Linked DNA regions of Homo sapiens: regions 2 and 3 are each linked to region 1. The links come from fine-mapping of genetic effects on gene expression. A gene starts in region 1. Each other region holds a variant in brackets. All regions are shown on one strand. Distances are from middle to middle. Region 1 holds the start of CYBRD1 (cytochrome b reductase 1). Region 2 has its middle 46 kb from the start of CYBRD1. Region 3 has its middle 57 kb from the start of DYNC1I2.

The links. PIP is the estimated chance that this variant, and not a neighbour inherited with it, causes the effect.
Region 2: its variant is fine-mapped to the expression of CYBRD1 in subcutaneous fat (TwinsUK, PIP 0.95).
Region 3: its variant is fine-mapped to the expression of CYBRD1 in subcutaneous fat (GTEx, PIP 0.98).

Annotation. Positions count from the first base shown.
Region 1 is chr2:171,517,449-171,526,757 of GRCh38, reverse strand. CYBRD1 (cytochrome b reductase 1) reads right to left here and starts at 4,284. Exons shown (of 4, transcript NM_024843.4): 1 at 4,020-4,284. The coding sequence starts at 4,212. It also overlaps the pseudogene RPS15P4. RefSeq lists silencers at 3,646-3,715, 3,866-3,975 and an enhancer at 4,086-4,195.
Region 2 is chr2:171,563,163-171,573,973 of GRCh38, reverse strand. No RefSeq gene overlaps it. Among named protein-coding and RNA genes, the nearest start is that of CYBRD1, 46 kb to the right of the region's middle. RefSeq lists a silencer at 5,896-6,067. The variant C/TC (reference allele first, on the strand shown) is at 5,115.
Region 3 is chr2:171,625,412-171,636,222 of GRCh38, reverse strand. No RefSeq gene overlaps it. Among named protein-coding and RNA genes, the nearest start is that of DYNC1I2, 57 kb to the left of the region's middle. The variant C/T (reference allele first, on the strand shown) is at 5,182.

The DNA.
Region 1 (9,309 bases):
TGCTGAACCTTTTAAAAGGTCAACAGCCACTTTGACAGCGTTTATTTGTTTCAGTCTTTTCTGTGGCCCTCTTTTCAAGGTTCGTTTCTCTGATTTCCTAGTAGTATACTTATTTCATGGGAAACATTTCTTTCAGAGAAGCACAAAGCCTCTTCTAAACCCTTCCTCATTCATGTTAGAGTCTGTTAGCTAGATTTCCCACTAGTTTAAAATTTTATTTTAGTTTTAGATTTCCCATGATCTGTTATACTTTAATTTAGAATATATACATATTCCAAAATATACTTGGAGTATGGGAGGTGGGGAGAGAGAGGGGGAAAGGAGGGGAGAGAGAGGGGGAAAGGAAGGGAGAGGGACACAGAGGAGAAAATGGGACAAGGAGAGAGAGGGTGAGCGAGAAAGGGAAAGGGGAATAAAGAAGGAGAGGGAGATTTGTTTTGTAACTTCTATGTTAGCTTTGCTTCTTTGGAGTTTATCCCTCTTTTTTTTTCGAGACAGAATCTCACTCTGTTGCCCAGGCTACAGTGCAGTGGCACAATCTTGGCTCACTGCAACCTCCACCTCCCAGGTTCAAGCAATTCTCCTGTCTCAGACTCCTGAGTACCTGGGATTACAGGTGCCTGCCACCACGCCCAGCTAATTTTCGTATTTTTAGTAGAGACAGTGTTTCACCATGTTGGCCAGGCTGGTCTCGAACTCCTGACCTCAGGGGATCCACTCGCCTCAGCCTCCCAAAGTGCTGGGATTATAGGCGTAAGCCACCGTGCCCGGCCAGAGCCTACTTCTTTTTTTTTTTTTTTTTTTTTTTTTAGACGGGAGTTTCGCTCTTGTTGCCCAGGCTGAAGTGCAATGGCAAGATCTCGACTCACCGCAACCTCCGTTTCCCGAGTTCAAGCAATTCTCCTGCCTCAGCCTCCCAAGTAGCTGGACTGTGCCGGCCCAGAGCCTACTTCTTAAAGGTGTTTCAAAGGACTCATACTTGTTCTTAGTTTCAAATATTGTTTACTATTTGTATATTGCATTTCTAAAGCATTTTATACTTAGAGTAATAACTGTACTTTAGCCTTCTCTTCTTCATCTCCAAATATTTGTGTATTACAGAAGAGAAGAACTCCAATACATCGTGTTCTTTGTTAGAGATTTGAAATCTCATAGCCTAAAATTTTCCTCCTTGCAGCAATCACACACGGTAAAAAAGTCTGTTATAACATGGCGAGTCTGTAACATGTGGGTCCCTCGCAGCCTATAAAGTTTATTTATTACTCCCCCTCCTTCCACTGGAGCCTTCCTAATACTTAGGGTGAGGAATGTGGATGGGTTGGCCAAGATATGGAAGAACTGGGGAGAACTATACATGTGCCTACATGTATGAAAACATTTATGCTCATGTCAATTAAATGCATTATGATTAAAGTGATTTGCACATCCAGGATCCAAACAGGAAACAGGATGAGTAATGACGGGACAAACTCTGGACCATTGATACAAATACAGTAATTGAACCTAAAGAAAACAAGATCGGCCGGGTACTGTGGCTCACGTCTGTAATCTCAGCAGTCTGGGGGGCCGAGGTAGGCGGATCACTTGAGGTCAGGAATTCGAGGCCAGCCTGGCCAACATGGTGAAACCCCGTCTCTACTAAAAATACAAAAATTAGCTGGGCGTGGTGGTAGGCATCTGTAATCCCAGCTACTGGGGAGGCTGGGGCAGGAGAATTGCTTGAACCTGGGAGGTGGAGGTTGCAGTGAGCCAAGATTGCGCCACTGCACTCCAGCCTGGGCGACAGAGCAAGACTACGTCTTGAAAGAAAGAAAAAAAGAAACAAGATTTTCGTAAGAGCAGCAGATGAAAATTGCCAAAATTTACACATTTTTGTCCAAGAGTTAAGTATGAACAGATTAAGAGAAGTACAAAGTTTAGAGAAATTTAAAAACCTTTTAGAAAACCGTATATTGGACTCTAACATGAATGAAGAGTTTCAAAACATATTTTAGATGAAGGTTTTCGCTGTCTAAAAAGATTTGGCAGAAAATAAGCATATTGCCATAAAAGCAGAGAATCCAACTTTGACGATAAGGTCACTGAAAAGACTTAAAACAACTTTCATGGGTAAGTTACATAACTTCTCTGCCTCAGTTTACTCTTACATACATGTGATGTGACATAATGCACTTAGTGGACACACAGCATGCAATCACTATTAGCCATTCTGATGTCTTCTCCTCTGTGGCAAGTCAGGCAACGAGCAATAACACTTGTGTTTCCCTTACCCTCAATTATGAGAAGATATTCCAAGACCTCCAGAAAGCTTTTTGGTATTAGAAGCTGCTCTGAAGAGTTGGGTAGAAGAGGAGACTGGCTCTACTCTTTGAGCAAACAAGGTGTAGACAGCTCGGGGCCAAACTTAAGGGCTCCACCACGAAGGAAAGAGTGCTTCTGACAGTTACTTTGGAACTTGAGTATGTTTTTTTCTTATAAGCATAGTGGCAAAATAACTGAGAGTTACGCAACGAAATGCCTTAGGTGCCCAGTGGTGCTCACACCCTGATGCCGATCTCACACCCTGATGCCGATCTCACACCAGGGAAGCCTTTGAATGCTGAGGGTTAGTAACACCTTCCACTACATTCCAGAGTGGGAGAATGCTGGCCACACTTGCCAAAGCTGCAGTACAAGTTTAAAACAACCAACAAAAACAAAAGCCAAAATCACTTTTCTTTAGGAATGAGGTCAGCACTCTTTTGCACACTCGTTTGTGGGGAGTTAAATATTTGGTGAAGAAAAGGCAGCCTGCCCGCAGGCAAAGCTAGAGATTTCGGCCAGTGGGCATATCTTTCCAAACCCTTGCTACTCCTCTCGATTATTTTCTGCGACATAACACCACTCCACCCCTTGCTGCCTTTCTCTAACTACTTTCTGAAGGCCGTGCCTTTGGGGAAGTGGTTACAAATAAATGGTGTTTGCGCCAAAAGCTAGAGGTTCCTCCAGCTACACGGCAAACCGAAGGAAGCAGTCAGGACATTGAGAGGCACTACACAATGACAACAAACATTGCCAGCGACTGCTGAGCCCCTCCCCCGCGCCAGCCTCAGCCCAGAGAATGCAGGCCCGGGGCTGGCTCGCCGCGGGCCAAACACGGACGCAGCTTGCGCCGGGGGCATCCCGAGCAGAGGCATCCCTCGGTGCCAGGCAGCCGCGGGCCCTCTCCGGGCATCTCCCACCCGGAGTGCTGGGCCAGTGCCCAATAGGAAGCCCCGCGGGGGAACTTTCGCCACTCTTCTGCCACATAAACAAGTCGGGCTCAAGACCGTCCAATGACTGGGCAGGGCGGCGAAACACACTTGGAAGTCCTGGCAGCTTCCCGGACTCGACTGAGTTTAACACTCTAGGAGGAGAGGAACCCAGGGCGGATGCTTCACTCGCCCCCCTTGGCCAGCCCCTTTACCCAGGGCCGAGGATGTTACAAATACGGGCAAATTCTCGCTCCGGCAATCTTTTCCCCGCTGCCTTCCCCTCCTCATCTGCAGCCTGGAAGCAAGTTCAGCAAAAGGCTGAGGCGAAAGTGTTTCCGCGCCCCCGATCGCGCAGGCTCGGTCCACAGGGGCGACTTTCCGGGGCGCGTGGGCTGCAGCGGCCCGACTGCGCGGCGCTCCGGCATCGCGCCCGGGCTCAAGTTTCTGGGTCTTGGAGGCCCCTCCAGTGCGTCCTAGCCAGTCGCCGCAAAGAGTTAACCAAGTGGGGCCGGCCCCGCTCCGCCGCCCCCAGCAGCGCGTCTCCACCGCGCACCCCCGGCCCCGCGCTCGCGGCGATCCTCCTGAACCGCAGCTCTGTCCCGCCCCAGAGCCAGCCAGCCTCCCTCCCGCCCAGCCGACTTGGCTTCCCGCGCGCTCCTCACCGCACTCCTCCGGGCCCCGCGATCCTCCAGCACTTCCTCAGCTGGAAGGGGCTTCACGGAGGACCCTCTGCCCCCGCCGTTCTCCCCGCTTTCCTCCCCGCACCCCCCCAGGAGGTGCCAGTACCGATGCCCTGGATGAAGACGAAGCCGGTGACCATGAGCACTGGGTGCCAGTTAAACTCTAGTGCGCTCCCATCCCAGCCAAGCCCCTCTCGGTAGTGGAGGACCCAGACGAGGGCGAAGATCACCGACAGGAAGCCGACGAGCAGTGCCGACCCCAGCAGCGCCAGGAAGCGCCAGTAGCCCTCCATGGCCATCAGCGCCCCATACTCCGCACCGCGGGGGCCACAAGAACTTGGAGAGGCGGCGGCAGCCCTCTGGGTAGTGGCCGGGCGGCGGGACCGGGGCGTCGACTTCTTGGGGCTGTCTCCGCCTGCGGGGAGGGACTTTCTGGGCTGCTGGCCCGGAATGTGGGGCCTCTTGGGGGTGGGGAGCTGGCCCCAACTCAGAAATGGGCCCCACCCCCGGGATCACGCGGCCGCCGAGGGCGCTCATTGCCTGGTGGCCTCACCCTCTCCCTCGTCCAGCATCCAAGCTCGCAGAGGGCTTCAGTAACAGACCTAGTTAGTTGCTCAAAGAGAAAATTCCGAGGATTTTATACTCACCACTTGCTTTTAACACTTCCCGTGTCTCGTCCTTATTTGTGGGGAGGTTGAGTAGGGCAGTGGTGCGCCCTCTTGGTTAAGAGAAGAGAGGGATCCGTTGGGTAGGGTTATGTGTGTGCTTTTAACTACTAACGAAGCCTCCTTAGCCACAGTGCTGGAGAATTGGCTGTCTCTGACATCAAAGGGTGTTAAGGAGGAACCTGTAAGGTGGTGTAAACTAAAAATAAAATCCTAAGCCCCTCACTGACTGAATGGACCTCCTTGGCCAAGCAGACCCCAGAAAAACCTTAAAGCTGAGTTTCTAGCTACAGCCGGAAGGGAAGTCTACCCCCTCCATTTTGGAATTTAGACTCAACAGCTGACTAGCATTAATGTTTAAAATAGAAATCATAAGGCGGACAGAACAGACTCTTTGTAGCAATAAGACATCAAATTATAAAAAGGACCTAAGTCACACACTCCTACACTTAAGAAATAAACTATGGTCTAACTGCCACAAAGGTTTTCTTTTCCTCTAGAGGCTAAACAAGCACTGGCTTGAGATAAGCAATATTAAAACAATTACAACTTAATCAGTTCACAGATGCTGACCAGCTGAACCCCTGTTGCACCAGCCAGAACTACAGCTTTCACTGGGCTGATTTCAGGAACTTTTTCATGATAAGAAGACCGACCATGGACCGGTTCTGGCCAGTGTACAGGGATTGTGCACTTGTATGCATTCACGTCCTGAAAAGACCTTTTGAAGTGTAGGTTTGAAGTAATACATTTAAATGTATTTGAAGTAATACAATTAAATGTTAAGTCTCCACCCCAAAGAGAACATGTTACATGCATGTTTGTTCAATATGCATGTGTAAGGACCACCTCCATTAATATTCATAGCTCCTCCTGTAACCTGTTACGTATGTATGTTTGGCCAAACTGTTCAGCATAAAGCTCCTACCCCAACCCCTCTGCCTTCCAAGTGCCTGTCTCTGGTCTTAGGCCAGAGGCTATGTTTATCAGCCTATGGAATGGCCTCCTTGCAGGCTATAACCTTTTATAAGAAATAAAGTCTCCTCTTTTTTCAAATTTATAATTTTTTGTTTTAAGTTAACAGTAAAGGCCAGGCGCAGTGCCTCACACCTGTAATCTTAGCACTTTGGGAGGCTAAGGCGGGCAGATCACTTGAGTCCAGGAGTTTGAGAACAGCCTGGGCAACAAGGTGAAACCCTGTCTCTACTGAAAATACAAATGCATGCACCTGTAGCCCCAGCTACTTGGGGGACTGAGGAAGGAGGATCACTTGAGCCCAGAAGGTCGAGGCTGCAGTGAGCTGAGGTTGCACCACTGCACTTCAGCTTGGGTGACAAAGTGAGACTCTGTCTCAAAAAAAAACAAAAAACAAAAAACAAAAAAAACCCAGTAAACCGGGTCCCCATGAGGTGTCTCACAGCTGTAATCCCAGGGCTTTGGGAGGTGGAGGCAAGAGAATCACTTGAGCTCAGGAGAGGTATGATCGCACCACTGCACTGCAGCCTGGTGACAGCTAGACTCTGTCTGGAAACAAAACAAAAACAGCATGGGCAGCGGTGGGCTTGGCCTTATCCTGCAATGAAACTACTTGCAGTTTGCTCTTGAGAGAGGGAAGACAGGAACCTCCTGGACCTGGACTTGCCGTTTAGTGTGACAAATGGATTTTCAAAGTGCCCGCCCACCCAAACCAATTTGAACCAAAGCCCCTCCTTGATGAAGTGAAGCTTGCTCCCTGCCCTCTTTCCAACATTATCCTCACCCTTCTCCACTGGACAAAAACAATGTCAGCATTATCTAATGCTATTATAAGAAAAAGGGTTCTGACTGCCAGGGCTTCCAGAATGCATTTGGGAACGTTCACTTCTAGCCCTCTTCTGTAGCTCATCTCCAAGGACTACTTTGCTATATTGTCTTGTTGCCGTCTTGAAAGACCTTAGAATGTGCAGGAAGTATACGGGGATGATTTTCAAAGCAGGCTAAGGAAATAGGAGTGGCAAGCCATGGTAGTAGGGCAGGATTAAGGGCTCAGAGTAAAAGGCTGTAGACCTCACCTGTGTCATTATTTTTCCCTTGGTGGGGAGAGTAAGCAAATGGAAGAGAAGGATACCTTTCCCCAGCACAAGGCTTTCTTTGATCTGGTCCAGCCTAGCACCCCCTGCCAGTCTCTTACCACAACCTGACTGGCCCTGATGTCCTTGGCTGTAAACTGCTCTGGCAGCTTCTGACCACTTCCTACCCACGCCACTGCCTCTAAATTTCCCTGACCCCCATCTCCACTGAGAAACCTTCCCTGAGTCTGCCCCTGCCCAGACTTTTATATCCCACTGACCTCCCCATCCAGTGCCTCCTTGTGTCACCTGTCAGGATGTAATATAAGGATCTGCTTCTCTGGCTGTCTCCACTCTCAGACTGCCCTATTGAAGGCATTGATTCTCTAATTGATCATTTTATTCCTCCTTGGGATGTGGTAGTTACTCAATAAACATGTGTTGGGAGGCTAATGAGACTGAGTGTGTTAATCAGGGTCCTGGCAGAAAACAAACAGCATATTGGAATTGAGTAATTTCATAATGAACAAGACTGTTTATGAAGTTGTGGGCAGTGTAGGAAACCTCAGGGTTAGGCAGTGCCCCAGGTCTGAAGGGCAGAGAATTACTGGAATCCAGAGAGAAAATTGTGCGGAGGGGGAAGTCCGATAGAGGCCTTGAGTACAGGGATGCAGCCAGCCTGCAGAGACCTCATAGGGAGAAAGATGGAAGCAGATAAATATTCCAGCCTTACTCTTCTCCCCTCTGATCTTCTGCCTAGGGTGTCCCAGGGGCTAACCAGAACCTAATCAGAAGCCACAGGGCAGTCCATGTATCCATCCCAGGTCAACTTAGGGCACAGAGCAGAAGAGAGAAGAGTGAGAGCGGATCCCTAGGAATAAAAGGAAACTATCCCTGAATCTTCCGGTTTTATTTTTTCAGACCTTTTTTTGGTTCCTGAGTGCTGCAAACATTGCCTGTTTCATCTTACACTGATTCTTTTCCTTTGCGAACTTTAGCTTGTAATTCTATAATGACATCATTGTATCCCTATCCCTCTCCCTAAAAGTATCTAGTCTTTGTCCTCAATTAATGTTTTCACCCCATTGACCTAACACCTTCACTCCACTCTTGAGTTAATTTTGCTTCATAGCAGCAGCAGATGAGAATCTCTGGGATTCCAGACCCCATTTAACAAAACATTTCGGGAGGATGAAAACATGGCCAAATGGTACCAATGGTGTTGAATCATCTTGAAGTTATATGTAAAACTGAGAGAATTTCAACTTTTAAATTATCTTTTAAGAACCTAACTTTGATATTAAATAAAACTGTCACTGAGAAGGGGAAATTTTTCAATAAACATTGTTGTGGCTTACTGTTAACCTTTTAATTAATTAATTAATTATTTTTCTTTTTGAGACAGGGTCCCACTCTGTCACCCAGATTGGAGTGCAGTGGCATGATCTTGGCTCACTGCAGCCTCCACCTCCTGGACTCACCCTCCTGCCTCAGCCTCCCAAGTAGCTGGGACCACAGGCGTGTGTCACCATGCCTGGCTAATTTTTGTATGTTTGGTAGAAAGGGGGTTTCATCATGTTGCTCAGGCTGGTCTCAAACTCCTGAGCTCAGGAGATCCACCTGCCTTGGCGGCCCAAAGTGCTGGCATTATAGGCATGAGCCACCACCCCTGCCTGTGAACTTTTTTAAAACAGAGTTGTTAAATGATAGAAGTTTCCCTCTGGAGATTGTAAGCAGTTTGTCACCAAAGTACCTAATCAGACTCAATAACCTGTCAGCAATGCTGTTGGGTGATTCCTGATGTAGCAGGTGGGGGAGAGCATTGAAGAAGATGGCCTTCCTAAAAACCTAGAAGCTGGCCGGGCGCAGTGGCTCACGCCTGTAATCCCAGCACTTTGGGAGGCCAAGGCGGGCAGATCTTGAGGTCAGGAGATCGAGACCATCCTGGCTAACACGGTGAAACCCTGTCTCTACTAAAAATACAAAAAATTGGCCAGACGTGGTGGCAGGCACCTGTAGTCCCAGCTACTCGGGAGGCTGAGGCAGGAGAATGGCGTGAACCAGGGAGGCGGAGCTTGCAGTGAGACGAGATCACGCCACTGCACTCCAGCCTGGGCGACAGAGCGAGACTCTGTCTCAAAAAAAAAAAAAAAAAAAAAAAAACAAACAAAAAAAACACCTAGATGCTAGAAACATGCTCATGCAGAATTTTTTGTCCCTCACACAGATGTAGAATGTAGAGTAAGAAGACATGTTGTGAGGGTTGTGGAAAGAAAATCCAAATCCCACCCATCAGGAGATGAGGCACTGGGAGCCCTAGATGCCATCTGTCTTTTGAACTTCCACAAAATAATGTTGCATTTCTTCTGGTGCATACAGAAGTCCAGTATGCTGCTCTTCTGAGGATCCGGCAAGATGGCAGAAGTAGAGCAGAAGAAGAAGCGGACCTTCCGCAAGTTCACCTACCGCGGCGTGGACCTGGACCAGCTGCTGGACATGTCCTACGAGCAGCTGGAGCAGCCGATGCAGCTGTACAGTGCGCGCCAGCGGCGGCGGCTGAACCGGGGCCTGCGGCGGAAGCAGCACTCCCTGCTGAAGCGCCTGCGCAAGGCCAAGAAGGAGGCGCCGCCCATGGAGAAGCAGGAAGTGGTGAAGACGCACCTGCGGGACATGATCATCCTAC
Region 2 (10,811 bases), 46 kb before region 1:
AATAATTACTCCATCTTATAAATTACTGTTTTCTCTTATTCCAGCCCACAGTCTGTCATTCTAGAAAGTATGATATATTAATTTTTAGCTAAGCAATATCCACAGGGAGTAATCAGAGTTGGCACTGTACAGGTGTTTTTCCAATGAAAAGGTTACTGTTGGAATTATTTATAAGCAACATCAGAACACTGAATATTAACAAACTGAATTTCACCTGGTTATTAAGTAGCAGGAGATACATATGCACCAAATCATCCCGCTTTGACCTTGAATGGTTGTATGTTTATCCAAGAAAGAAGCTCCCCCATCTTCAATGTGCTATTAACCTTCCTTTTTGTCCTTTTTCATTTCTTCCCTTTTAAATTTTATTGTAATGAAATAGTTAAGTCCTACACAAAGGTGTAAACCTATGATACTGATTCTACTTGACTCTGCCACTCAGCTTGGGAAACGCATTACCATCCAAACAGGTGAAGCCTTTGTGCCCCCTCAGCTGTATTCCCTTCCTTCTCTTTACAGTTTCCACTTCTCTAAATTTGGTGTTCATCATTCCCATTTGTTTCATTACGCTTTTGCCGATACATATGTGTTCCTAAACGGTACAATGTACGGGTTTCACGTTTCTGAAACGCTGTTGAGATGGTATCCGTGTTTTCTGTAACTTGGATTTTTTTCTTTCAGTATTAGGATTGTGAGACCCATCCATCATATTAATTTCCCAGAATTGTCGTAGCAAACAACCACAAACTGGGTGACTTAATAAAACGAAAATTTATTCTCTCAGAGTTCTGGAGGCCAGAACTCTGAAATCAAGAGGTGGGCTGGGCTGGGCTCTCTCTGGGGCTCTAAGAGAGAATGTGTTCCTTCCTTCTTCCAGCTTCTGGTGGCCCAAGGCATTCCTTGGCTTGTGAATCTCTGTTTCTGTCTTCACATGGCCTCCTGCTCTCTGTTGTGTCTTCCTGTCTTAGAAGGACACTTGTCATTGGATTTAGGGCCCACCTGATCCAGAATGATCTCACCTTGAGGTCCTTAATTACATCTGCCAAGCCCCCAGGCAATACATGGTGGAGGTAGGTGTCCAACCCATGCATTTTGACCAACTCCTCCAACCACTGGATGACATCGCCTCTAAGCTCAGAAAGCTGCAACTTCTGCTTACACAAATAATGGGCATTTAATGTGGCACTGGATCCAATACTCAGCTTATATAGGTGAGAACTAACTAGTATTGGAGGGTTACAGGGCAAGGAATTGGGCATAGGTTGGGAAGGCAGGCAATCTGGGTCCTAGAGTTAATTCTCTGTTGATCCCTAAGCTCCAAGAAATAGGATACTGCTTCATCCCTGCTCCTCTTCCAAGCCACTTCACCCGATTTAACAGGAAGGGAGGTCAGTGAAAAGAACTAACTGGGTATGGACTGGAAATGCACAATAAAAAAATTTTAAAATATATGCATTTCTTTGGATTACTAAAGTAAAAATATTATAGAAAATTTGGGTAATGGAAGAAAAAATCATCCCCACCCACTCCTCTAATCCCTCTACTTCTCTTCTATACACACTTAAAGTTGTAATCATTTGATTTTAGCGTTATAACTATGGAGACAAAAGTGGATCCCTCTTAGATGCTAACCTGTCCGGTTGATTTCTGATTAGCTCCAGTCCCGTGAATGCCTCCTGCTTCCTACTTTATTTGCTGTCCTTAGTCTAAGAACATGTCAACTTTGATGTTATCACACAAATTATAGGACATGACGCACAGCCTTCTTGCCTGTTCAATAACAGTGCAGAGATCTACCTGTCTTGCTGCTGCCCAAGACCACGCTTCTGTCTGTAAGTTCCCCAATAAAATACCCTTTACTGACACACTGGATTTGTTGGCCACCTTCTTTGGTTTCTTGGCTCTTCAGCATTTGGGAGCAGCTTTGCATATATGGCCATTTCACAGAACAATAGCCTACGATATATTACCATTTTTCTTCTTGCTACATGGCTTTCACAGTTGATTTTCTAAAATAAGACAAGTACTGATATACAACATGGTGACTGAGACAGCCAAGGAGTGCGCACTGGGGTGGAGCCTCCGGAATTTCGCCCCATTTGCAGGCAGAGAGGAGCTGGCCTCTCCGGTTCCAGGGTGGAACCTGGAATTCAATCTGTGATTCTGGAAAACCAGCTAGCAGGACTCTCACTCTGCCGAGAGTCCGTTTCCCTTTTTTTTTTTCCTTTTTGCCTAATAAATTCCATTTTTCTCATCCTCCAAATTGTCTGTGAACCTAATCTCTCATGGCCATGTGACAAGAACTAGGCTTTCAGCTGAACTAAGGAGAAAGTCCTATAACTCTAGTTAATGATATGGTATTGTGTACTTAAAACTTGCTAAGACAGTAGATCTTACGTGTTCTCACTAAACACACACACAAGTGGTAGGCTTTGTAGGTGATGAATGTGTTAACTAACTTGATTGTGGTAATCATTTCACAATGTATAGTATATTGGTCATCACACTGTACTCCTTAAATATATATAATTTTGGCCAGGCATGGTGGCACACATCTGTAACCCCAGCACTTTGGGAGGCTGAGGCAGGAGGATTGTTTGCACCCAGGAAGTCAAGGCTGTAGTGAGCTATGGTTGTGCCACTTCACTCCACCCTGGGCAACAGATCAAGACCCTATTTCAAAAAAAAAGAAAGAAGAAAGAAAGAAAAAAAAGAAAGAAAGAAAGAGAGAGAGAAAGAAAGAGAAAAAGAATATATATATATATAGTTTTATATGTCAATTATGCCTCAATAAAGCTGGAAAAATAAAATGACAGGTATTCTAATCTTTACTTTACAGCTACAGAAACTAAAGCTCAGGAGACTGACTTGCTGAAGGTCCCACAATTAGTAAGTGATAAAGCTGGGGACCATGAAGCCATTGTAATTCAGAATGTATAAAATGTTGCAACTGCTGCAAGATTGTATTTCAATATGTGGATTTTTTTTCTTTCTTTCTTTGGAGACAGGGTCTTGCTCTGTTACCTAGGCTGGAGTGCAGTAGCATGATCATGGCTCACTGCAACCTCAACCACCTCGGCTCAGCAATCCTCCCACCTCAACCTCCCAAGTGGCTGGAACCACAGGTATGTGCCACTGCACCCTGCTAATTTTTTAATTTTTATAGAGATGGGATCTCACTGTGTTGCTGAGGCTGGTCTTGGTCTCAAACGATCCCATCTCAGTTTCCTGAAGTGCTGGGATTATAGGTATCAGCCACTGTACCTGACCGATAATGTGGATATTCTGAGTAGGCATTTGCATATCAATATCTGGTTACCTGTTGCTGCATAACAAATCACTCTAAACTTTGTTCCTTAACATAATGACTGCATTTATTTTGCTCATTAATTTGTAATTTGGGCAGGGCTTGAGAAGGACAGTTTGTCTTTGCTTCTCTTGGCATCAGCAGGGGTGATTTGAGGCTGGTGGCTGGAATCATCTGAAATCTCACAGGTCAGCTAGTTGGTGCTGGGAGCTCAGCAGGGCCTATGGCCACAGCCCCTCCACTTGACCTTTCCATGGGGCTCCTTGGCTTTTTCACACAGTGCTGGCTGGGTTCCGAAGGTAAACATCCCCAGAGAGAAGAGAAGAAGGCAAAAGCTGTGTCCCCTTTGGTGACCTCCTCGGAGAAATCTTACAGATTCACTTCTGCCATATTTTATGGGTTAAAAGTTAGTTGCTGAGGCCAGCCACGATTCAAGGGAAGGGGAATTAGGCTCTACCTTCTGCTGAGAAGAATATCATAGAATTTGTGGACATATTTTAAAATCATCACAATTTGCCCGTTGGACATACATTACCTACATTTTCCCCTACATGCAAAGTAGACTCACTCCCCTGCCCTAAACCCCTTAAACATTGTATCTCCTGTAGCATCAGGCTGGGGCTCAAGGTCCATGATCTTGACATATAAATCAGGTGCAGGAGTGGCTGAGGCTCCTTGGGTGCTGTTCCTGGAGTAGAGCCCCTGCAGTGCAGTTCCTCTCCACCTGAAGACTTGGGAATCAAAGGACAAGCTGCCTCTCTGCTCACTGCACCCAATATATTGTACAATAGTGGAGCAAGCACAGGATAATCGCTGCAGACGCTTCTGTTCAAAAAGGGGGGAAATGGGAGGCACACAGCAGCCACTGGCGCACAGCGATTCTGAAATCCAGCTGAGCGTATGTTGCCAGTTCCTTGATAGGGCTTGGTCCTACACCTGGAAGTTGTCCACCTTGCTTTTGGCTCCACCCACTGCACTCTCGGTCCCACCTTCTGAGCCATTCTTTCTTTTCCATTAAAAGTAGCCCATGTTGGGCTGGGTGCAATGGCTCACATCTGTAATCCCAGCACTTTGGGAGGCCTAGGTGGGCAGATCACCTGGGGTCTGGAGTTCCAGACCAGCATAACCAACATGGAGAAACCCTGTCTCTGCTAAAAATACAAAATTAGCCAGGTGTGGTGGCGCGTACCTGTAGTCCCAGCTACTCGGGAGGCTGAGGTAGGAGAATCTCGCTTGAACCTGGGAGGTGGAGGTTGCAGGTGTGCCGAGATCACACCATGCCACTCCAGCCTGGGCAACAAGAGCGAAACTCCATCTCAAAAAAACAAAAAAAAGAAAAAAAAAAAGTAGCCCATGTTTGCAGCTGAGTGACAGTCTTTTTAGATTGCTTCCTGCTCTTAGAAGCCTGGAATCCAAAGGCCTGAATGTCCCTTTCACTCCAAGCTAATTCTAATTCTTTTAAAATATGTATATATAGTCTTCTTATTAATCAATTTATAACTAACTCCATTAGGCAAAACCCATACCAATAAATCTCCTTTAGCCCTTCTCTCCCTTCTCCTAAAGCTGCGGTCCAATAATTCCCTTGAGATCTGTAGGCCTTTCAAGCCAGCAATGGTGTGTTGAAAACAAATAAAGAAGGAACAAACAAACAAACAAAAAAGTTGCTAGGCCTTTTGTCTGCTTGAAAGGGCCTATGAAACAACACCTTATGGACTTTCTGAGGTCTCAGCAAAGAGTCTTATAGTCATGCCCAAAAATAAACTCACTTTATTTTTGAACCATATTTTTCTTTATTTTTTTTTTT[C/TC]CCGAGACAGGGTCTCATTCTGTCACCTAGGCTGGAGTGCAGTGGTGCTACCTCCTCTCATTGCAACCTCCACCTCCCGGGTTCAAGCGATTCTCCTACCTCAGCCTCCCGAGTAGCTGGTACTACAGGTGCACACCACCACACCTGGCTAATTTTTGTTAGTAGGAACAGGGTTTCTCCATGTTGGCCAGGCTGGTCTCGAACTCCTGATCTCAGGTGATCCACCCACCTCAGCCTCCCAAAGTGCTGGGATTATAGGCGAAAGCCACCTCACCCAGCCCTCAAATTGTAGATTCATGAATAAATAGATGTTGTTACTGTTTTAATTTATTAAATTTTGGGGTGGTTTGTTATGCAGCAATAGATAACTGGAACAGAGTTTGGTAGCACAGCAAAAACTGCTAACGTGTGGCAATGGCTTCAGGACTGGGTGGCAGGCAGAATTTGAGAGTCTTCAAGAGACTGTTAGTGGAAACCTCATGGTTCTTGAAGAAGTTATTGGTTAGGGCTTATGGGAAAGCGAGGAAAATGTTACTGAGAGCTGTCATATAGCAGCAAAAAGTTTAGCAACACTGTCACCTGTGGTAACATGGAGAATAGAAAATATACCAAGTTAACTGAACCGTCTATCTAAGGAGATTTTTGGGAAAAGTGTTGAAGAAGCTGCCTGGTTTTTCTCACTGAGTATAGTAAACTTCAAGAGAAAGAGAGAAGTGAAAGAGAACTGTGAAATATAGAGGGGCCAGGAATTGCTGGGTTTGAAAATAAAAGTTTCTCCTTTCTAGCTTCTTCATACGGCAAATGAAATGGCTTCCCGGTGAAGATTGAACCCAGGAGGCAGAGGTTGCAGTGTGGTGAGATTGTGCCACTGCACTCCAGCTTGGGCGACAGAGCAAGACTTCGTCTCCAAAAACAAAAAAAAAAAATTTGGAAAGAACTTAGAGGGGACGGTTTATCTCTGCTCAACTCAGTGTCAGCTGGGGTGGTTCAAAGATTGGGGGCTAGAATAAACTCAAAACTCACTCATTCACGTGTCCGGTTGGCTGATGTTGGCTGTTAGCTGGGAGCTCATGCAGAACTGTTGTCCAAATATCAACACGTGACTTTTCCATGTTGATCGGGTTTGGCTCTTTGTCCCCATCCAAACCTCATGTCAAATTGTAATCCCTATGTGTGGAGGGAGGGACCTGTAATCCCCATATGTTGAGGGAGGGAGGTGATTGGCTCATGGGGTTGGTTTCCCCCCATGCTGTTCTCATGATAGTGAGTGAGTTCTCATGAGATCTGATGGTTTTATAAGGGGCTTTTCTCCACTTTGCTTGGCACTTCTCTCTCCTGCTGCCATGTGAGGAAGGACGCGTTTGCTTCCCCTTCTGCCATGATTGCAAGTTTCCTGAGGCCTCCCCAGTCGTGTGAATTGTGAGTCAATTAAAACTCTTTCCTTTATAAATTACCCACTCTCAAATATTTATTTATAGCATGTGAAAATGGATTAATACACATGTAGTGTTTGATTTCCCCATCAAATGACAAGGTGGTTGGGTTCCCAGAGCAAGCATTGCACACGAGAGAGAGAGAGAGAGAGAGAGAGAGAGAGACAGCGAGCTAGGAAACCTAGTCCCTGAAGTCGCATAGTATTGTCTGCTGCCTTCCTGTTTTGTTTGTTTGTTTTAGAGATGGGGTCTTGCTCTGTTGCATAGGCTAGAGTGCAAGTGGCAGATCATAGCTCAGTGCAGTCTTGAATTCCTGGGCTCAAGCGATCTTCCCACCTAAGCCTCCTGAGTAGCTGGGACTACAGGTGTGTGCCACCATGCCTGGTTAATTTTTATTTTATTAGTAGAGATGGGGTCTTGCTATGTTGGCCAAGCTTGTCTTGAACTCCTGGCTTCAAACTTGGCCTCCCAAAGCGCTGGGATTACAGACACGAGCCACTGCACCAGTCTTGTCTTCGATTCTTTACAAGTGAGTCACTAAGCCTGGCCCATGTTTAAGGAGAGGAGAATAGGGTTCTATCTTTTGATGGGAAAGAGTGTCAAAGAATTTGAGGACCTGTTTTAAAACCACCAATATTAAGGTATCCTTAGCTCCATTTTATAGATGCATAAGCTATAATTCAGAGAACTTGCTGAAGTTCTCACAATTAGTAAGGGATAAAGCTTGGGACCATAAAGTGACTGTACTTTACATACTTAAATACATTATATATAATGTACAATCTGTAAGGCAATGTAAAGCTATGACATGTTATTAATTGTCTCAGTTGAGCTTTCCTAGCTTCTTGACACAAGGAAGGGAGCCCATCAGGCATGTGGGTTATGAATCAAGAAGCTTTATTATTTTTTGTATAATAAAATATGAGTTTGTTTTGTTCATAAGTGTTCTCTTATCAGATCAAACTCTCATAATGGCTGGAAACACCTTCTGTCCTGATTTCAGAGCATATAACTAGGTTCTATATTCCTATCAACCCTCTATCTAACTTAACATACAACGTACCTTTACCTTGCTAGCCCTATGTTTGGCTAAGACAGCTGAGCTGAGGGGAGCTCTTTGACATTGCATAATATGGAGCTCTTTGGTCTCTCACAAAGAAAAAATGTGCTCACCAACTTTTGCTCAAAGGTATTTTTGGCTTTATAGTTAAATTTCTGGTTAATGATCAGTTTTGCTAATTGAATACCTCACATTTCTTTTGGTTAGATGGCATTTATCTGTATCTGTGTGTATATGTGTTCAAATGTGAGTGCATATCCTCATGGGAGCATGTTTCCAAATAGTTTGCTTTCTAATTGTTTGTTACTAACAGCCCTTTGAATTTTCTTAATGAGCACTTTGTTGTACAATGAGGAAAAACAATTAACTGCACAAAATTTTTGTGCGATCACAAAAGACAATCAAATTATGATATATCAAAAACAAAATAGAGCAAACCATTGTGCTTAGCAATGTATGGAAATATCTTCTGAGAAGCAAACAAATAACTTTTCCGGACACTATGGTGTTTTTTATGATCATGTTTAGTTTATGTCATCTTTTTCATGGAACAAAAACCAGTCTCTATGGCTTTTGGCCCATAGTCCCCATATCTTTTAAAACCTGTGACCTTAACCACTGTGTACAGTATTAGATCTTCAAAGGTGTTTTGCTCAACCTCTCCTTCTCTTGCAATAATAGCAAACACATAAACACTAGTACGGATTATTGTTGCTAGAAAAGAATAATGAATTGTACATTGTGGTAAATAAGGTATTTAAAACACCATGTTTGGGAATTTACCACCGTGATCTGTAATTTCTCTTATTGCTTTTTGCTCAGGGTTTCATCCCTCCTCCCTGCCCTCCAAGCTAATCTGGGCCAAGTGGATTCTGTTCTGACCCATCTCTAACTCTTTACTCAGTCTATTCCTTACCCTATTTTGCCTTTTTTTCTTTTCTTTTTTTTTTTTTTTTTTTGACATAGAGTTTCACTCTGTTGCCCAGGCTTAAGTGCAGTGGCACAATATCAGCTCACAGCAACCTTCGCTTCCTGCCTCCCGGGTTTAAGCGATTCTCCTGCCTCAGCTTACGGAGTAGGTGAAATTAAAGGTGTGTGCCACCACACCTGGCTAATTTTTTGTATTTTTAATAGAGACTGGGTTTTGTTATGTTGGCCAGGCTGGTCTTGAACTCCTGGCCTCAAGTGGTCGGCCCGCCTCAGCCTCCCAAAGTGCTGGGATTATATCTGTGAGCCACTGTGTCTGGTCCCATTTTTGCCTCTTTTGTCACTTTTACAAAGCCTACTAACTGTCTCTCTTTTTTGGAGCCCTCGATACCTAGATTACAAAGGTTTATTCCAGTTGTAAGCCATGAGAATTGTAGGTAATTCTGTGCTGAAGGATGGAAATGGTGTATGAATTAAACTGGCTGCAATAGTCTATAAAATAACAGATTCATAGCTTTCAGCATGAGCCCCAGGCAGTGCCTAGGAGCAGTGCACACAAGACATCCTCAATCACTAATTGGTGAGTGAATATAAAAGGACCTGTTTTTTGTAGCAGATGGAGAGATTAAGCGGCTTGCCCAAGATTACACCCGTGGACCATGATAGAGTTCCTACAAGAATCCAGATTTTTCTGTTTTGTCCAGTTCTTACAAGTATATACTGCCCAGCTTCCAGTGATTGCATGACCTTCGGAAGACTTGTAAATGTTTATGTCTCTGCGATCTGGAGATTAACAATGCTGCAAAGCAAATAGTCCCTCAGGCCATTCCGGTATCTGACCAAGTTAGGATCTTGGCAAATGCTTTAGTTCCTCTTTCCTGGTGTTAGGAAAACATTTATTTCAATTATAAATATATTATCTTCAATTTCTTGATAAATTAGACTAAGCAAACATTTGGATGATGTCAATGAGGCAGACGGGATTCCGATAATACATGTTTTTCTTAGTACAAAAGTGATACTTAATTATAGAAAATACAGAGAAAACAAAAAGAAGAAAATGAAAAATGCCCATTATCCTACCATGTCTCAAAGATAACCATTTTTTAACATTATTTTATTTTATTTTACTTTATTTTTTGAGACAGAGTCTTGCTCTGTCACCCAGGGTGGAGTGCAGTGGTGCGATCTCGGCTCACTGCAAGCTCTGCCTCCCAGGTTCAAGTGATTCTCCTGCCTCAGCCTCCCAAGTAGCTGGGATTACAGGCCCGCACCACCACATCTGTCTTTTTTTTTTTCCTTTGTACTTTTAGTAGAGACAGGGTTTCACCATGTTGGCCAGGCTGGTCTCTGACCTTAGGTGATCCACCCACCGTGGCCTCCCAAAGTGCTGGGATGACAGGCATGAGCCACCACACCAGGCCAAAGATAACCATTATTAACTAATTAACTATTTGGTATATTATGCCTCCAGTTATTTGAAAGTGTATGCACATTCACATTTACAAACTCTTTTATATTCAATTTCTTTCACTTAATATTTTATGAACATATTTTCATATTGCTAATTATTCACTTGAACAATATAATTTTTGATGACATAGTTTTTGTATAGTGTAACTTTGTATTTGGCCATTCTTTATTAGACATTGTTTCCAAATACAAGAAATCTTTAAGATGATTTGCCACACAGATACAATCACTACAGTGGTGATTCTCAGTCTCTACTTGCACTCCATTCGCAATCCAGTGCTCTGTTAAATGAGACAGAGACAGAGAGAGAGAGAGAGAGAGTGAGAGGTTGAGAGAGAGAGAATGGAGGAAGGCTAGGCAAGGAGAGGCCTGAATCCTAATCATCACTCCACACTTTTCCACACCCTTGAGTTTTATTTGCACTTTTGCTTGCTCTTGGGGTGAATTAGCTCACACTTAAGGCTGTCACTGCTCCTCTTGCCTCACACCCTTTTACTTCCTTCATTTGAGTGTTCCAGGTGAGTTCACTGGGCCAGAACCTCCTACAATCTGCTCAAGACCTAGAGGTTTGAATGGGGAATGTGAGCGCTGATAGAGACAGGGAGCCAGGTCGTGGGTTGGGGAGGGCAAGGATGCTTCCTGCCCTCCTCCTTCATCACTAGTGGCTACTCTAGGGCCTGCCTGTGTGTGCCAGGGCTGAGCTAGGGCCTGGCCCCCTGGAGTTCTACAGAGTCCCTCTGGTACCTGAGCCACAAGAGAGGCACCTGTTCAGGAAATCTCATCAGAATCTAAACTTTAAGAGGA
Region 3 (10,811 bases), 110 kb before region 1:
ATAATAAAAAACAAACAACACTGGGAGGCTGAGGTGGGCAGATCACGAGGTCAGGAGATTAAGACTATCCTGGCCAACACGGTGAAACCCTGTCTCTACTAAAAATACAAAAATTAGCTGGGTGTGGTGGTGTGTGCCTGTAATCCCAGCTACTCGGGAGGCTGAGGCAGGAGAATTGCTTGAACCAGGGAGGCAGAGTTTGCAGTGAACGGAGATTGTGCCACTGCACTGTAGCTTGGCGACAAAGTGAGACTCTGTCTCAAAAAAAAAAAAAAAAAAAGGACCACAGAATAATAATGATCTAAAATCCAGAGATTTTTAAAAACTAAATAACAGAACATATTATTGTGGTTTTTAAAATCCTTATAAAGTTCACACATAATCATGTAGATAATTCAAGCAACTAAGAAAAACGTGAATAAAAAAGTAAAAGTTATTTATTCACATTTCTTTTGGCCCAGAAGCAATAAGTGTGTTTTAGTAACAATGCTTTGAAGTCTTTCTCTACAAACACAAACACTTTTTTTATTTAAATGGTATTTTATATGCATATTGCTTATAGCAAGCTCTTTTTAGTTAATAGTGTAGCTTAGAGATCACTCCATGATAACAATTATATATATATGGAATATTTTTTTTGAGACAGAGTTTTGCTCTTGTTGACCAGGCTGGAGTGCAATAGCATGATCTCGGCTCACTGCAAGCTCCGCCCCCTAGGTTCAAGTGATTGTCCTTCCTCAGCCTCACAAGTAGCTGGGATTACAGGCATGCACCACCACGCCTAGCTAATTTTGTATTTTTAGTAGAGATGAGGTTTTACCTTGGTGGTCAGGTTAGTCTCAAACTCCTGACCTCAGGTGATCCACCTGCCTCAGCTTCCCAAACTGCGGGAATTACAGGTATAGGCCACCATGCCTGGCCTATATAGAATATTTTTAAAATGCGAGTTTAATATTCCATTAGATGGGGCTAGACATGGTGGCTCATGCATGCAATCCTAGAACTTTGGGAGGGCTGAGGCAGGCGGATCACTTGAAGCCAGGAGTTTGAGACCAGCCTGGCCAACATAGCGAAATGCCATCTCTACTAAAAATACAAAAAATTAGCTGGGCGGGGTGGTGTGTACCTGTAATTCCAGCTACTCCAGAGGCTGAGACATGAGAATTGCTTAAACTTGGGAGGTGGAGGTTGCAGTGAGCTGAGATTGCACCACTGCACGCCAGCCTGAGTGACAGAGGAAGACTGTGTCTTCAAAAAAAAAAAAAAAAAAAATTCCATTAGATGGATGCAGCATAACTTACTTAGGGAATTTTTCTTAGATTTAACATATTTAATATTTTTCTATTATAGATAACACATGGCAAAAAAAAACTTGTAGCTAAACCTTTGAACATTTTCTTATGTAAATCATAGGATAAATTGCTATACACTGTTTATGGAAATCTACAGTGCCTTTGAAAGTTTGTTGTTTCTGTTGAGGTATATCCATAGCATTGACATCTCCAAGAGAGAAATAATAAGTATAAAGTTCTTGGAACAAACTATTTTTTTCTCCACCTCTGCTGCATTCTTTTTCTGCTAACTACTTATCCTCTGCTTTTTCATCTTGCTCTTGGTTCCAACTGCACCATGGTCTCAGTGCAATATCCTAATTAATATCTGTGGATTGACTAGTTGACTGGCCTCTGTCAGATCAGGTTTCTGGCCCAATAAGCAGTGGTAAGAAAGAAGAGCACAATCCTATGCATGACCTACTCACTGCCCATTCATTAGAAGTGAGGGGATTCTTTTTTTTTATTTTAGAGAAGATTTTGCTATCTTGCCTAGGCTGGAATACAGAAATGCAATGGCTATTCAAAGATATGATCATAAGAACTGTAGCCTCAAACTTTTGGCCTCAAGGGGTCCTCCTGCCTTAGCCTTCCAAGTAGCTGGGAGGGACTACAGGTGCACACCACTGTACTCAGCTGAGTGGTGGCTTCTTTTATGGGTGACTTAAAAAATTCAAAAGTATTTAGGAACCCAGGTTGTAAATCAGGAGGTGCTAAAATGATTTGAGGGATATTACAAACTGAACCAAGCCTTGGAAAAATGGTGATTAGCAAGAAACATGAGAGAGTGTTCCTGTATTAGTTAAGAAATGCAGGATTATAAGTGACAAGAACCAAATCAAAACCAGATCAAGTCAATGGTATTTATTGATTTTGACTGGAGTCAGTTTCCTAATTTGGGGAGACTAGGTTATTGGAAATCCAGAAATTAGTACATGTTGGCAAGATTTCAGATTAAGGAAGCCAATGCCTGAAGTTCTCATGGAGACCTAGAATGCTAAAATCATTCCAAAAGGAGACAGGAGGGAAAGGACAAAGGGGACAGAGAGGGAGAGGGAAGGAGGAAGGGGGAAAGAAAGAGAAAGAGAGAGAGGAAGGAAGAGGAGGGAGAAGGGTGGAAGAGAGGAAAAGGCAAAGAAAAGGAAGGAAGGAAGGAAGGAATCACTTATAAACTTTACTTGCTAGTGGAGATTTCCTTGAGTCACACCATATGCAATTCCTTATTCTGAAATCTGAGGGGTCCTTAAAGGGTGTTGGGCCTGCAGGTGCAGACTATGGTGAACAGCTGGGGTGAGGCTGGGTAGTCAGGGAATAAGAATTGAATGGATGTGAAGTTTGTGTATCAGATAATATTCATGCAAATAATTTCAATTTGGAAAAATCTGAGGTCATGATGCAATTTGCCCTTTTCAGTCCCAGATTTCTTCTGGGTTCTATGTTTGTGGCCTAGGACTACTTTTCAAGTTTGAATGAGCCCTAAAGAAATTTGGAGACCATTCAGATTCCAAAAACAAACAAATGAATCTCTTGTCATTTAATGTAACTGTGACAGGATCTCACAGATGAAATGAATCTCAAGAATTTTATTTTTGAGGGCCCAAAGAGAGCTTGGTAAATGTACAATGAGATGTAAGGAAGAGGGAAAGTCACTGAAGTTCTTCAGACATTATGGTTACCAATTATATTAAATTGGTCAGGGTGTTGGGTGTTTGCTGGAGTGAAAAGCATATTTGTTATTTTGTTATCATGATATTAAGAAAATTCACTTTTTTTTGAGACAATCTCACTCTGTCACCTGGGCTGTATGTAGTGCAGTGGTGCAATCACAGCTCATTGCAGCCTCAGTCTCCTAGGCTCAAGAGATCCTCCCACATCAGCCTCCTGAGTAGCTAGGACTACAGGTGTGCACCATCACACCCAGATAATATTTTTAATTTTTATTGGAGATGTGGTCTTGCTGTGTTGCCCAGGTTGGTCTTGAACCCCTGGCTTTAAGCAATCTTCCCACCTTGGCCTCCCAAAGTGCTGGGATTATAGGCATGAGCTACCATGCCCAGCCAGAAAATTCACTTTTAATAATATTGAGATTCAAGGTTTGGATACAAAACAAGATAGAATCATCTAAAGAATTATAACATTTTACTCTAACACTTCTTCCAGTGTTAATTTTACTGGAAAACTTGCCTCAACACCCAAAACTAGATGTTAATGGGGAAAATATTTATAACTATTTATTGATGGTATAAACCAAAAAGTATCTGAGACAGGTCTCAATCAGCTTAGAGGTTTATTTTGCTGAAGTTGAGGACACACCCAGGAAAAAGAGACACAAGCCACGGTAGGATCTGCAGCCCATACTTTTTCTGAAGACCAACCTTCCTTCCTTCCTTCCTTTCTTCCTTCCTTCCTTCCTTCTGATTCTCATTCTGTCATCCAGGCTGGAGTTTAATGGCGCAACCTCAGCTCACTTCAACCTCCGCCTCTTGGGTTCAACATCTGCCTCGCCAGTTCAAGCAATTCTCCTGCCTCAGCCTCCCAAGTAGCTGGGATTACAGGTGTGCACCACCATGTCCAGCTAATTTTTGTATTTTTTAGTGGAGACGGTATTTTGCCATGTTGGCCAGAGTGGTCTCCAACTTCTGACATCAGGTGAGCTGCCTGCCTCGGCCTCCCAAAATGCTGGGATTACAGATGTGAGCACTGCGGCCGGCCCCAAAGAGGATTTTGAAGGCTTCAACATTTAAAGGGGAAAACTGGACATGAAGGGAAAGGGGAAAGAAAAAAAGAGGGAGGGTATGGTGACATTCTTGTGAATCCACATATTGCACATGAAAAGGAGAGGGTAGAGGAATCAGTCAATTATGTATTCATTTCACAATCAGTAAATCTGTACTTTACATAAGAAAAAATAGGCTGGGCATGGTGGCTCACGCCTGTAATCCCAGCACTTTGGGAGGCCGAGGCAGGTGGATCACCTGAGGTCATGAGTTTGAGACCGGCCTGGCCAACATGGCAAAACCTTGTTTCTACTAAAAATACAAAAAATAGCCAGGTGTGGTGGCATGTACCTGTAATTCCAGCTACTCAGGAGACTGAGGCAGGAGCATCACTTGAACCCGGGAGGTGGAGGTTGCAGTGAGCTGAGATTGAGCTGAGATTGTGCCACTGCACTCTGGCTTTGGCAACAGAGCGACACTTTGTCTCAAAAAAAAAAGTAAACAGAGTAGATGAAGCAGTCAAATATGCCTTTGTCTAAAGTAGGGGAGATGATTTCTAATCTCCTCTTGTTGCGGGAATGAAGGAACTGGAGAGACCAATAGGTGGGACAGGAGGATTTTATTTAGGTGCACCAGCTCAGCGGATTTGCATCCAGAAGGCTGAGACCCAAACAAAGACAGGGCTTGACTTTTATACATGCATCTGTGGCTCGAAATGCAGTGGCGCAAAAGTGGGTTTACGGAAGCAGAACAAAGGCAGTTTATCAAACAGAGACAGGCTCATAACTCAGGCTTTCATGTGACTCTTGCTATGTGGGCCAGGTGGCTGTTATCTAGGCTTGCTCAAGATGCCTGCACAATCTTATCTCATGTCCTCCACTATGGCGCCCAGATGGCTGCAATCTAAGATTGCTCAAGCATGTCTCATGACCTCCATGGTGCTACTCAGATGAAAAACAGACTTACAGACACTAGTTACAGAAAACAGGAACCTATAAACTCATAAAAACTTGCAGAGCAGGGTACAATCACACGAGGCGGGAGGGATTCAAGGGAGAAGCTGCTCATACCAAAGGAAAGGAAGAAAATTTGTTTTTTCTTCTGTATCACCTGCTTCACTCTTGTCCTGCACC[C/T]ATAGAGATAAGCTGTTAATTTTCATTTTCAGGGTCAGGGTGGGAGGTCCCCTGTGGAGGCATGTGGTCTTTTATCTGTACCTTTCAGTTTAGGAGCAAAAGGCAAGGCAGTTTTTTTGTGACTCAGTTTTCAAGCTTAACTTTTCTCTTTTGGCATAATGAATTGGGAGTTCCTACTTTTTATTTTTCTTTCACAATGAAATGATCTGAAATTCAATCTAAAGCAATGAGTTTACTGGATGTGGGGGTTGGTAGGTGACAATGTCACCTTTGAATGCCGGGTGGTTTAGAAGACTGTGTTTAAGTGTATATGTGGGTCCATTTCCAATGCAGAAATAGATACTGTAGAGGAGGAAAAAAACTCCTCTTTCACTCATCTTAAGTTCTCCAGCTGGTGCCATATAAATTAGGCTGGCTAAAGACAGATTAACAAGAAAAAAAAATAAACAGATGTTTATTAGCATATGCCTGGTGCTTACATATGGGCATATTCAGAATTGATTGACTCCATTAGGTGGTTAGAAGTTGGCTTTCTATCATCTTAGGCTTAAACAAGGAAAGAAGAGTTTTAGGCTTCTGCATGGGGGAGGAAAGTTAGGGGTAGGTGACCAGGAAAAGTATGGTAAACAAGGGTCATTGGTTTGTTATGCAGATGGAAGTACCTTCTCCATTGATAGGAGTTGTTAAGGATCCTCTTCCTCCTGGTACAGAGGGAAGCACCATTTCTATATGTAAATTGACTTTCTAAATGTAATTTCCTGGTCTTCTGGTTCTCAGCGGGCTTTAGCGCAAAATAAGCCAAATGCCAAATAGGCATATTTTAGGTTGGCATATTCTGATACTCCTCAATATTCATATGAAACTGAATATAAACTGTCTTGGAGATTGACTTTCAAATGTCCAAGAAGCTCAGCTCCAGAAGGGCTGCTACCAGAATGAGGCCTGCAGAATCTGCATTCAGAAATGTGACTGTCTTGGAGAATTAAGAGAAAGAGAAAGAGGAAAACACCAATCCAGCTATTCAAATGGCTTTTGATGTATAGGGGCTAAATTCTCACATCTGGGTGTAAATAAGTAAATATGCTAAAATAACACATCTGTAAAGTTGAGAGTTTTGTCCCGAGAATGAAACAATAAATTATAAAAAAGGGGATTTTAGTTTTAGAAATATATTATTTAGAAATATATTCATTTTAAAATACCTTTTTAATTTCTAAAGTTACTATGGATGTCTACATCCCTGTATTCCCCCCACAACCGCCTTTCTTTTTTTAAAGACATGGTCTTGCTCTGTCACCAAGGCTGCCGTGCAGTGATGCAATCATAGCTCACTGCAGCCTGGAACTCCTGGGCTGAAGCCATTCTCCCACTTCAGCCTCATGCGCCACCACAACCAGCTAATTTTTAAATTTTTCTGTAGAGATGGGGTCTCACTGTGTTGCCCGGACTGCCCTTGAACTCATGGCCTCAAGTGATCCTCCTGCCTTGGTCCCCCAAAGTGCTGGGATTATAGGCATGAGCCACCACACCAGTCATTCTTCATTTCTTATTCTGACAGACTGAGACTAAATGGAGGAGAAGAAGAATGGATGTAGTCTGGAAGTATAGCATTATTCAATTTGGCTACTTCTATGTTTAAACTGAGAAAAGAAAAATAGGTCAGAACACTTTGAGCTATCTGTGGTATGCAACATTTAACAGGACCGGAGAGACATGAGGATAGAACTTCAGTAATAATCCTGCTGCCCAACATGCCCAGGGGCAATTCTTTGAATTTTATTCTTTCTTTTCCTCTCTGTAGTTTCCTCACTAGCTGCCTCACTCATTATCTTTATGTTTCTAGAATTTGGGATACAAGGAACAATGTAATGCAAGGAACAGACCAATCAACAGCTTTTGTTATCTTAATGTAAATTCTTGGTAAACATCTTAGAAACTGCCTCTTCTTTTTTTCCTTTAAAAACTGACTTGTGGCCAGGTGCAGTGGCTCATGTCTGTAATCCAAGGAATTTGGGATGCCAAGGTGGGTGGGTCACTGGAGGTCAGGAGTTCCAGACCAGCCTGGACAACATGGTGAAACTCCATTTCTACTAAAAATACAAAAATTAGCCAGGCATGGTGGCATGCACCTCTAATCCCAGCTACTTGGGAGGCTGAGGCAGGAGAATCGTTTGAACTTCAGAAGCAGAGATTGCAGTAAGTTGAGATCGTGCCACTGCACTCCAGCCTGGGTGACAGAGTTAGACTCTGTCTCAAACAAAAATAAATAAAGGCTGGGTGCAGTAACTCACACCTGTAATCCCAGCACTTTGGGAGGCCAAGGTAGGCGGATCACCTGAGGTCAGGAGTTTGAGACCAGCCTGGCCCACACGGTGAAACCCTGTCTCTGCAAAAATACAAAAATTAGCTGGGCATGACGGCAGCCAGCTGCTTGGGAGGCTGAGGCAGGAGAATCACTTGAACCCAGGAGGCAGAGGTTGCAGTAGGCCGAGATCACGCCATTGCACTCCAGCCCCAGTGACTGAGTGAGACTCTGTCTCAAAAAAAACAAATTAAATTAAATTTAAATAAATGAATAAATAAGATATAACTTGTAACTGCTGCTAATCAGAGAATATATTCAGGGCAACTTGAATCAATGCTTCTGGGCTATACTCCTTAAACTTGGCCCAAATACACTTCCTACTTCCATTAATTTTGTATCAGTTTTTTCCTTCAGGTTGACATATGTGGTGTATGTCACCAGATTTAAAATGTCACCAGCAGGATTTAAAATGACAGACTGCCGACTATCTGGCATTCCTTCTCTGATTCAATGCTTGGTACCAGCACAAACCCACTGTGTTCTTCCAACTCCAGAGGTTTCAGTGGCCACAAAAGTTTCAGTCCTGAATCTGGATCTCCATTTCCTTTTCAGCTGAGGTCTAGATTTTATTTGGGCTGTGTTTTTCAAACCCTCTCTTTCATGGTTGGGCATGGTGCCTCACTTCTGTAATCCCAACACTTTGGGAGGCTGAGGCAGGAGGAGGGCTTGAGGCCAGGAGTTCAAGGCCAGCCTGGGCAACAGAGTAAGACCCCGTTCCTGCAAAAAAATTAAAAATTAGCCTCACTACTCAGGAGGCTGAGGCCAGAGGATTGCTTGAGCCCAGGAATTTGAGGTTACGGTGAGCTATGATCACATCATTACACTCTAACCTGGGCAAGTGAGTGAGATTCCTGTTGTCATGGAATCCTTGGGGTGTTGCTTCACCAGCCAGAAACCTCTGTGGCTAGCAGTACATTCTGCCTGAGTGTTGCTTGCACCTGCTGGGCTCATTCTGCCCACTCTGCCTGGCAGGCTGTGCTTGGCTTGCACTACCGGCCTGGATCTGACACCTGCCAAAGGCAAGCCAGGCAGGGAGTGGCGAGGGGTGTGTGGGTGAGCGAGTGCGAGGTGAGGTCACTGTGCACAGCCAGGGATGCTGGCTGCTGTGGCAGGGCAGGCAGCTCCAGGCTCTGGCACAGGTGCCAGCTCCATGTGAAGCTGTGGCTGGAACAGATGCACCACACACAGCTTCTGCTGCAGGCATCCACGTCTGGATGAGGGGAATGTGGTGGTACCCAGAAGCTTGGAGATGCCAGGAACCACACAGCCCCAAAGAGGGTGTCACAGCTCTGGCTTGGGGATCCCCTAGGTCTGGGATCCCTGAAGGGCCACAGCTTTTTTCCCCTTCTCATTGCCCACGGTGTGGCAAACAGGGAGGTGGGGCACATGTTTCAGCCCTGTTGGTGTTACAGCTCTTTCAGTCCTGCCATTCGGCGGTTCCTGAGTTCTTGTCCCACGTACAAGAAGAATGAGCTACACAGACCACTGCAGGGTGAGCAAAGTAGAGAGGAGTTTCATTGAGCGACAGAACAGCTCTCAGGAGACCCAAAATGGGTAGCTTCTTTCTGCAGGCAGGTTGTCCCATTGAGTGTCCAGCTGTCAGGAGACAGGAGACCCAGAGTGGGTAGCTCCTATTCACAGGCAGGTCGTCCTTACATCTGTCTGAGTCCAGGGTTTTTATGAGCTCAGAAGGGAGGAAATGCATGCTAATTGGCCCATGGGTGGTCATGGATGGGCTCGGAAAAAGCACCATAAGTTCTCATTCCAGGTGTGGACTCCACCTGGAAGTGGCAGACTGGCCCCCAGGCTTCAGGCCATCCCTGGCTTGAAGGTGGATAGGGACCTGCTCTTTTCTGCCCAGGAACCTGTCTACCTCCTGCTAACAACATTCCATCCATGGCACCCAGGCTTTTCATGATAAGGGGTACCTGCAGGCCCACACCGAGCTGCCCTCAGCACCCCCCACCACCTCCCTCCTGCACTCATCAGTGACCAAAGTCCAAAGGGGGCCAGGGCGGCATGTCAGCACTGCCCCAAGTGCACACACACCTGGCTGGGTCACGACAGCATCTGGCTTTGGCCACAACTTTGCTTCTGCAACAGAGTGGGCACTGAGTGCAGGGAGAGGCCAGGGAGTGAGAGCAGGCACTTCTGAGCCTGTGGGGTCAGGGGGCACTTCCTGGGCCCCCAAGAGCACAGGGATGCCTGGGTCTGGAGCTGTAGCTGGGCAGCTGCAGCTACACTCAGGGAGCACAGGTTTCCTGCCCTGCCAACTTGGAAGCGGGCAGGGCTCCTGCCTGTTTCAGCTCCTGCTGGCTCCATGGAGCATGCAGCCCTGGCAGTACTTCCCCTACTGCAGCCCGCATCTTCACAGCAGCTGCTCCAGACAGGCTGCCACTGCCATCACTGTATCTAAAAAATAAGAAAAAAGTCAAACCCTCTCTTTCCTCTAAGAGTGAGGGCTTTGGTCTCAGTGTCTGGATGGGAGATTTGGATAAACAGGTCTGCAGAGAACTGCTTTTTCTGCCTCTACCTCAGGGCAAGAAGTTCAGGTTATGGTATGGGCAGTCTGGTACCAGTAGTTACACTTGTTTTGGCCTAAAATTACATAGCATGCTTTAAAAATTGCAGCTATTGGCTGGGTGCAGTGGCATCTCTACAAAAAATTTAAAAATTAGCCAGATGCAGTGGCATGTACCTGCAGTCCCAGCTACTTGGGATGCTGAGGCAAGAGGACTGCCTAAGCCCAGGAGTTCGAGGCTACGGTGAGCTATGATGGTACTACTACACTCCAGCCTAGGGTCCAGAGTGGAAGTCCATCTCAATTAATAAATAAAGTAAAATAAAATAAAATTGCAGCTGCTATCTACTCCTTGTAATTTAGACTTGCATTTTCACTTGTGACCAATTCCTGTTAGTTTCAAACTGAAAGGTGCATAGTGTGAGTTTTCTCGCCTCCAAGAGAAGAGGCAACTGCTCCCTCTGACCCATTCAGGTGTTCTATGTGACTAGAGACTTTATAGAGGTGTCAGGAATATTGTCTGGGATGGGAAGCAGCCTCATAGGGCATTTTTCACCAGAAGAACATTTTAGGGAATCTAACTCATCAGGAAAGGTAAAAATTAAGGAATTGGTTACCCCAATACCTTGAGCACCCTACTGCCACCTGGCAGTTAGAGGCAGTCTGGGACACATAACAGAGAGAGTCTCGACTTTTGGATGACACCCTGAGGAGTGACACTCAGAAGAAGCACACTTCTCAAAG